2 separate regions of the Homo sapiens genome follow, and region 2 is linked to region 1. The links come from fine-mapping of genetic effects on gene expression. A gene starts in region 1. The other region holds a variant in brackets. All regions are shown on one strand. Distances are from middle to middle.

The links.
Region 2: its variant is fine-mapped to the expression of SLC26A3 in testis (GTEx, PIP above 0.99).

The regions. Positions count from the first base shown.
Region 1 is chr7:107,800,595-107,804,998 of GRCh38, reverse strand. It overlaps SLC26A3 (solute carrier family 26 member 3), which reads left to right and starts at 1,776. Exons shown (of 21, transcript NM_000111.3): 1 at 1,776-1,888.
Region 2 is chr7:107,780,436-107,784,839 of GRCh38, reverse strand. It overlaps SLC26A3 (solute carrier family 26 member 3), which reads left to right. Exons shown (of 21, transcript NM_000111.3): 9 at 1,488-1,635; 10 at 1,747-1,860; 11 at 1,966-2,043. Among named protein-coding and RNA genes, the nearest start is that of SLC26A3, 21 kb to the left of the region's middle. The variant A/G (reference allele first, on the strand shown) is at 2,665.

The DNA.
Region 1 (4,404 bases):
GAAAGCCAAACATTAGCCAAGTAAATAATTGTGTATTTTTAAATTATGATGCTATGTTTTAAAAAGTACATGCAAATTAACCAAGGGACTTAAAAAAATACTCTGAGAGAATGCCACAAGAGGGGCTAATTGAGATTAGGAAGTCAAAGTGGTTCTCCTTGAGAAAGTGATGTTGAAGCTAAGTAACAGCCAAACCGAGAGAGAGAGAGAAGTGCATTTAAGCAGAGAAAATGATGTCTGCAAAGAGTGGGCAAATTTGGGACTACAGGAGGCCACCATGGTGGGAGTGGAGAAAACAAAAGTAAGAGCAGAGTCAGATGAGGTTGGAGAGTTGTGCAGGGGGAGATCATGCAAAGACTTTGGAGGCCTGTTTTCCCTCTGTGTAATCATCAGCCCCACAAAGAGGACTAGTGTGAAAAGATCATTCTGATTAATGAGTGGTAAAGAGATGGGGAGGGCTGCGAGAGGAAGCAAGAAGTGCAGCAAAGGTAAGAGTGAAGATGAAGAAAAGTGATGGCTTTGGGATGTATTTTGGAGGCATGCTCAATAGGGTTTAAGGATGGATTGGCTGCGGGTGGGGAGAAGGTCTGCAAGAAGAAGTGTCAGAGATGGTTCCCAGGTCTCTGACATGAGTAAAGGGGAATATTCTTTACTGAAATGGGGAAGACTAGAGATGGAGCAGATTTGGGAGGAAAGATCAAGAGGTCTTAATCTCGATATGTGTCGTGTTTGAGATGCCTATGAGGCATCCAAGCAAAGATGTGGAATAGGCAGTTAAATATGTGGACCTAGAGAGCTGGGGTTAGAAATCTGAATGTTGCTGGGAGCCATAGGACTCTTATTTAGGGTAAGAGGGTAGCAAGAGAGGAGAAGGAAATTCAGAACAGAATCTTAGGAAATGCCAAAGAAAGAGTTAGAGGAGAAATTGGCAAAAAGGATGAGGTGAAAAACAAGTGTGTTAAAAATTTTTTTTTAGCATTTCAAGAAGAGAAGATTTTAGCCCGGCATGATGGCTGAGGCCTCTAATCCCAGCTACTCAGGAGGTTAAAGCAGGAGGATCACTTCAGGCCAGGAGTTTGAGACCAGCCCGGGCAACACAGCAATACCCCATCTCTAAAATTAACTAATTAGTTAAATAATTTTTAAAATAAAAAGAGGAGTTCATGAAAGTGTAGTCAGCAATGCCAAATGCTTTTAAGTAAGATGAGAGTTGAAAGTATTCATTGTGTTTAGCAACATAGGGTTTATTGCTCTTAGGAAGAGCTGTGGTGGGGGCAGAAATTGGAATGCAGATATGGCCTGTGGCTGGGAGTTGGGTGAGTGTTCCTAATGAGGGCCTTTATCATACCAGGAGTTAACCTATACACCACACTTCTGCAGCCCATGACAGATTCCATGGAGTCATCCAGCCAAAAAACACCACCACTAAACTCTCATCTAAACAGGTTGGTGAAATGTCAAGGAGATAACCCTTGAGAAGATTCTTTTTTTTTTTAAGTACACGTGAGCATCTGCTGTGCAATCTCTGCAAACCAATGAAATTACGTACACACAAGTGCATTAAACCACCCACTGGTGGTTTAATCTCACAAGGAACTTGAGGAAGCAATCTTCATCATCACTTCTGCTGATCAAAGTCTCAAAGGTCAAGACCACATTGCAGTCTTTTCATTGTTGTAAAAGTTAATGAGAGTTAATTATTAAAGCTGACAGAAAGGTAATTTGTCCACTGTCTTACATAGCCTATATATAGACATCCCTATGCATATGGATGCACACAGAGCCTGTAGACCTGAGTGGATGGACACTGCCTCTTAGAACTAGAACTTAGAACTTTATCTTGAAAATGTACCACTGTTGCAGAAGCTCCTCACAGAGTATGTGTCAGGTAGGAACCAAATTTATGATTGTTATATTCAAACTGGTTTTCTGTTCCTTGAAAATGGTATTTTTTCTGATCAAAGCCTATTTAGGAGTTATTATGTTCTTGAGTTTATTCCATGTGTGTGAATATTTTGAATGAATCCACTAATAAGATATGCATGTATGTCTGGAGCGCTAGCAATGTAGAATAAATATTTAAGTAGACTTTAACAAGTAAATGGTTGTAGGCATCATTAAGTCTTAAATAGCCTTTTCAAAGATATTAGTGTTCTTGTTTTAATTATTCAGATAATTCCTTTAATTCTCCACTCAAATCTGACTTTATAGATAGATTGTCTGCTCTGAGGGTTGGCAAAAAAAAAAAAAAAAAAAGCAAGCTTTAAGGAAAGAGTTTCTCCAGGAGAGAGAATCACCTACTAGAAAGGATTCAGAAAGGCCATCTGGTCCCAGCCAGGCATAGGGATATGTATCTATAGTCCTAGCTACTCAAGAGGCTAAAGCAGGAGGATAGCTTAGCCCAAGAGTTTGAGGTCAGCCTAGGCAACATGGCAAGACCTTGTCTCTTAAAAAAAAAGGGAGGGGGTAGGGGACATATGGTCTAGAAGTGAGAGATTTATCTGCTAGACATCCTAGAAAGTCCAAGACTAAGGGAAACACGGAGAGAAGAAAAGGCAATGAGAGTAAGAAGGATAGAGACTGGAAAGAGAAGAGAGATGGGGAGAAAATGGTCACTGGAAAGTAGCAGAATGCCCTATGCCACAAGTAGTATAATATAATATAATACATTAGTAATGTATGGGTACTTATCCCATACATTACTAACTCTATCAAGATAAAATCTATTTTATTCTTTAAAATGTCAGGAAAAGATTATACAACTTTCTTTATATATGCAAGTGAGGAACAATTTATCAAATTATTGGACTAAATAATTCTCTTTTCTGAAGTAAGTTAGTCATTTGGAAAAACTGTGTCATGAAATTTGACTGCATAAAGATCATTCCTTTTTTTTTTTTTTTTTCTGAGACGGATTCTCACTCTGTCGCCCAGGCTGGAGTGCAGTGGCACAATCTCTGCTCACTGCAACCTCTGCCTCCCAGGTTCAAGTGATTATCCTGCCTCAGCCCCCCAAGTAGCTGATACTACAGGCACGCTCCACTGTGCCTGGCATTTTTTTTTTTTTTTTTTTGTATTTTCAGTAGAGACGGGGTTTCGCCATGTTGGCCAGGCTGGTCTCGAACTCCTGACCTCAGGTGATCCTCCCACCTCAGTCTCCCAAAGTGCTAGGATTACAGGCATGTGCCACCCCATCCGGCCAAGGATTATTCCTAATGAAAATTTAGGAAGCAACTAATTTGATTTCAGAAACAAGAAAAATGGGGTAACACAATACATACTTTGCCTTCTCCCTCTGGATAAGGGAATAAGTAAGTATATAAAGAAATGAACAAATGTTTAATACCTCCTAAACAGCTCATATTCGACTAAGAAACAAAATCGTTCAGAAAATGAGAATGAATATTTTTCAATTACAAGAATAAATATGTAATAACACAGTCTGGTGCTTCTCTACAATAAAGGTCTTTGATTCTCCAAAGAGAAGAGAAGAGGCTCCTCTAGCCTCTGTGTCACTTTGTTGAGAAGCAAGGGGAAGAATAAAGCAAGTCACCTCAAGGAGATTTGTCCCCAGGCCACCAGGCTCATGTTTTGTGTTGTGGATATTGAGTGTAGGAGTGTGAGGCTTTCATGCTCAAAAGCAAGGACCCTGATGGTGCCTCACCTTGTTCTTTTACCTTGTCTCTCTTGGGGGTAGGGGCTGAGACCCCTGACATTGAATATGTAGCAGAGAAGAAGACGTAGTGGAGAGAGTCAGTTATTCACTAGATGTGGCTTCTCATCCTGGCTCTGGGAAGTTGAGAAAGTCATTTATCTTCTCTCATCTCCATTTCTTCATCTGTAAATTAGCGACAATACAGCCTATCTTGTCTGCCTCCATCCACAGTAATACTCAAGGAAGAAAAGTGAAAGTGCTCAGAAAATCTCAAAGCCTTACAGAAATGGCCAGGGATTCTCTTTTGCCTGCTGTGAGCCTACTGGGTGTGAAATCCCTTGCTATGGTGCATCCCAACATTTCTCTAATGGTTTAGCCTATGGGCCAACAAAGCCTTCTGTTTCAGTGTTTGGAACTCTCAATAACCTTTCACATGATTTGCTTATTGCCCACTGCTTTGTCATCACCCCTGCCAAACCTATCTGTTCTTTAAAGTCTAACACAAGACTCACAGTTCCTTCACAAAACCTTCCTAACTCCAACCCACATTTACATCCCTTCTTCCAATTTATTATCTGCACCAATTATTTTGGGCACTTCTCCTGTGTATGTAAACTTTGGAGTTTAGGTCTACGTCATTTATATATCTTTTGCTCATAGTTCAGTTTATTTCAACAAACTTTCTTGTATACTTACTATGTCATAGGACCTAACAAAAGAGGGAAAAATGGTTAAGATTTGGGCCTTGC
Region 2 (4,404 bases), 20 kb after region 1:
AGGGATCCTATAATAATAGCTAACAGGCACTTTGTGTTTTACAGTGTGTAAATAGTATTTGCATTTATTATTTGACCCTCCCACTAAACTGTGAAGAAAAGAGAACAAGGACGGGCGCCATGGCTCACGTCTGTAATCTCAGCACGTTGGGAGGTCGAGGCGGGTGAATCACTTGTGGTCAGGAGTTCGAGACCATCCTGGCCAACATGGCAAAACCCTGTCTCTACTAAAAATACTAAAATTAGCTGGGCGTGGTGGCACACACCTGTAGTCCCAGCTACTTGGGAGGCTGAGGTGGGGAGATCTCTTGAGCCTGGACAGTGGAGGTTGCAGTGAGCTGTGCACTCCAGCCTGGGAAAGAGGAGACCCCATCTCAAAAAAACAGAGAACAAGTTTTATTATCCTCACTCTACAAATGAGGAAATTGTGACTTGGGAAGGGCAAGTGGCAGAGCCAGGAAATGAACCCAAGTCTTTAGACTGTAAATCTTCATCACATCATTCTGTCTATGGTGTTCAGAGACCAGAACAAAAGAATAATAAGATCCTGGTTATTAAAAAACAAAAACATTCCAAGCTAACTTTTGGATTTATAATGGCATCAGATATAATAGTACTTCTTCAAAATTATGGTATAATAGTACTTCTTCAAAATTAGAGATAAAAATGTATTACCATAGATATTCACAAAATGTGGAACAGCAATTCAGAAAGAGTTGATTGGACCTAATTAACCCACTTCCAATAAGTCTGATGTCAGAAATATATGCTTATAGGAGTGGAACATTTTAGTAAATTGATGTTGAGTTTAAGATACATGCACCTTTTATGATACAATTAGTAAATATAATTGAACTGGTCTACATTCATGAGGCTTAAGCACAGAAGTACGCCCTGTGAGTTGAAGGTTTCTCTGACATATATCACCTTAAAGAGAAATCCACTCTCCATTAGGGTCATGGTTGTCTCTAGCATTTCTGTGAAGTGCAGGGCAGAGTCCAAGGCCCATCTCTTTGCCAGGAGTTTTCCATGAAAGGTTATTATTATCAATGGAAAGAAGACTTTTTTGCTTTCCTTGTCTCACAATTGTGTTTGCTCAAAGGACTTCATGTATGGATAACTATTGGGAGCATTTTGAGTGATGCTTTGCAGCCCAGTGTAACAATACAAGTGGAATAGAAGACATTTTGCAGGAAGCTTATAAGAATACACACGCACATTATAGTGTGGTTTTACTGGCAAAATCATATCTGATTTACCACTATCCTTGGATTGAATTTGCAGTCTTTTACCAAATTCAGGCAGTGTTGCTTTTCAGCATTAAGAAAGCAGATTGCAAAATTGTTAGTGGAGCTAAATTCTCGTTAATCATACTCCAAAGTGAGACACAACTCAGCCTAGATTGCATTCATTCATTGATTTGCCCAATGGTTATATCAGTTTATAAATTGGTTGGTGACATTCAGACTTGCTTAATTTCAATTTTAGATTTCAGCCCCCTATTACACCTGACGTGGAGACTTTCCAAAACACCGTAGGAGATTGCTTCGGCATCGCAATGGTTGCATTTGCAGTGGCCTTTTCAGTTGCCAGCGTCTATTCCCTCAAATACGATTATCCACTTGATGGCAATCAGGTAAGTAAACAAACTACACTGGGTCTCACTGGGCAACTTTAAATAATATTTTGCACACATAATATCAATGGTGCCACTTCTGAAAAAGGTTCATTCTTGTCTTCCTGTCAGGAGTTAATAGCCTTGGGACTGGGTAACATAGTCTGTGGAGTATTCAGAGGATTTGCTGGGAGTACTGCCCTCTCCAGATCAGCAGTTCAGGAGAGCACAGGAGGCAAAACACAGGTATGTCAAGATCTTTGCTGCAAGCACTGTCCTAGCGTTAGTAACTAGGAAATTCAAGCCAGGGGAAAAGTTGAGTTGGTGATGATAATTTTTTTATCCTCACAGATTGCTGGGCTTATTGGTGCCATCATCGTGCTGATTGTCGTTCTAGCCATTGGATTTCTCCTGGCGCCTCTACAAAAGGTAACACTGTCTTTGGATAGCATCTCTACTTTTAGTGGTAAATCAAGGACCCCGGTTCTTAAATTCTGAAAGCACAAACTAAACTAGGGGAAATGAGGTAATGACAAACTCTCAAGTACTCTTCTTAGCCAATACTCTGTATGAGCCAAAAATATTTCTTTTTCCCTGGCAACATGTTCTGAATGTTAGGAACACAGGTGCCCAACCTGCCTTATCTCCTCTACACTTTGCATGTGCATAGCCCCAAATAGAATTAATGTTGAAATAGGAGGGCACCCTGGCACCACACTTTCAACACGCATGGACTGAGTAGAGGTTTTCTTAAAGGTTAAGGTAATCAGGCCCTCTATCTAATTCAGAGAATGGCCCTACCAGCCACACAACTCGTTCTTAGGAACACACCCTGAAGCTTCTAGAACTTTGGTTTAACTCCAAGACCAACACTGTTGGATTGTGGGATGGGAGTGAACAGCCAGCACAGACCTCCCAGCCCTACTCTCATGCTCCTCTGCCTATAAGCTTGAGGGTTTAGTTTAATACTTTGTAAACTGCTGCAGCACTCAGATATAAAACATACCATCAGACCCTGGAAAGCAAAGGCTCTCTAGGAAACAAGATGAC[A/G]GTAAATACATTGTTCCTTGTGGTTTTAATATAATTTTGAGGTGGTACATGGAGCCCTGTTGACCTCCTTCTAATCCTGGCTCTGCTACTTATTATCTGTGTGATTTTGGGCAAATTACTTAACCTTGCTGAACCTCAAGCGCCACATTTGTAAAATAGAAAGGGAAATAATACCCACTACACAGAGTGACTATAAAAATAAATAAGATCATGTATGTGAACTACTTAGCTGAGGGTTTGGCATATGATAAATACTTGATAAATGATAGTCATTATTGTTAATAATATTATTATTCTACATTGTATTACACTCCTGGCTATAAAAGACATAGAGATATGATACAGCCCACAAATGTCTATTGGCTGTTACCTAGGCCTTTTTTCCTTGTTGGTTGGTAGCCGAACGGTGACTGTGGTCCCAGGTTGCTGGACTCCCAGTGTGGTCATCTCAAAAAGCTCAATGGCCAAATCCATCTTCAAGCAGGGCAGAGAACAATTTGCCAAAAATATGCATTCTCCATAGGCTATACTTCTGATTTCAAAATAAGTGGCATAAAAGGAATGAAAAAGTCACCACTAAAGAAATAGAAGAATGTTATCTCAATAAAAATAAACGCACACACACTCACCCCTACAGAGAGAACTCCACCCTCTCATGCTTCTCCCCGGGTGTAAACTTGAGTTCTACCTAGCCCACATCAATTTGGAGACACTAAAGAAATAATTACCAAATCTTGTCCAAGATTTAATCAAAGCCCCTTTTATAAAGGGTCCTGTGATATGTTCTTTTTAGGCCATTGTGGTCAGGAATGTCTTTGTTTCAAACACCCAAATAACTATTTGCTTCTTTTTATCATATGAAGGCAAAATAACCCATAATAAAAGCTCATAATAGGTATTTATTGAGTGCTCACTGCATGTCAGCAGAGCTCTAAGCGTTTTCTCTTCATTTAATCCTTTATATCAAATGCAGTATGGATACCAGATTACTGCGGAAATTATCCCCCTTTCCTTTCTATGATTTCTTAATGCTCTGTAATCTTTACTTTAAAAGTAATCTGTTGTATATGTATGTCATCGTAAATTACTTCAAATTGTTTTTCCGTAGAATACTGACTAGGTGGGAAATAATGCCCAATGGAAAAAAAAAGTCTCTTCGCACAGGTGTCTCTTGACATATTTTATACTTAGAGAATTAAAAGTCCTGCAAAATGGAGAGGCCCGTTGTACAGTCCTCTGACTTCTTTGCCTAGCTACCACAATGGTGACATCTTACACAGCTGTAGTACAATATCAGTACTATACATTAGTATAGTATGTTAAGTAGATTACAGACTTTATTCAATTTTCACCATTTTTTAACTGGCATTCACTTGTGTGCCAAATTTTTTAAAAGTCACTTAAGACCATATTTCTTCTAAACTGTGACCTCTATTCTCACAGTTAGTAAAATTAATTGCTTAGATATTATATTATAAGGATTACCTGTGAAAATTAGAAATAGGCAGATCAGTTCAACTGTCCTCAAGATATAAAAATAAAAACTGTATTTGGCTTTTCTTTGTACACTGTGTTTTCATGGTATAGCAGTATACAAATTCCATACTCCATTCAGAATAAAATAAATTGGCAGGGGGAACAGGACGGTGAGGGGCATGTTCCTACAATTACGATAAAATCCAAAGAATGAAGAGAATATACTTAGCTATTCAGCATTTTTCACCTTAACTATCACAATTC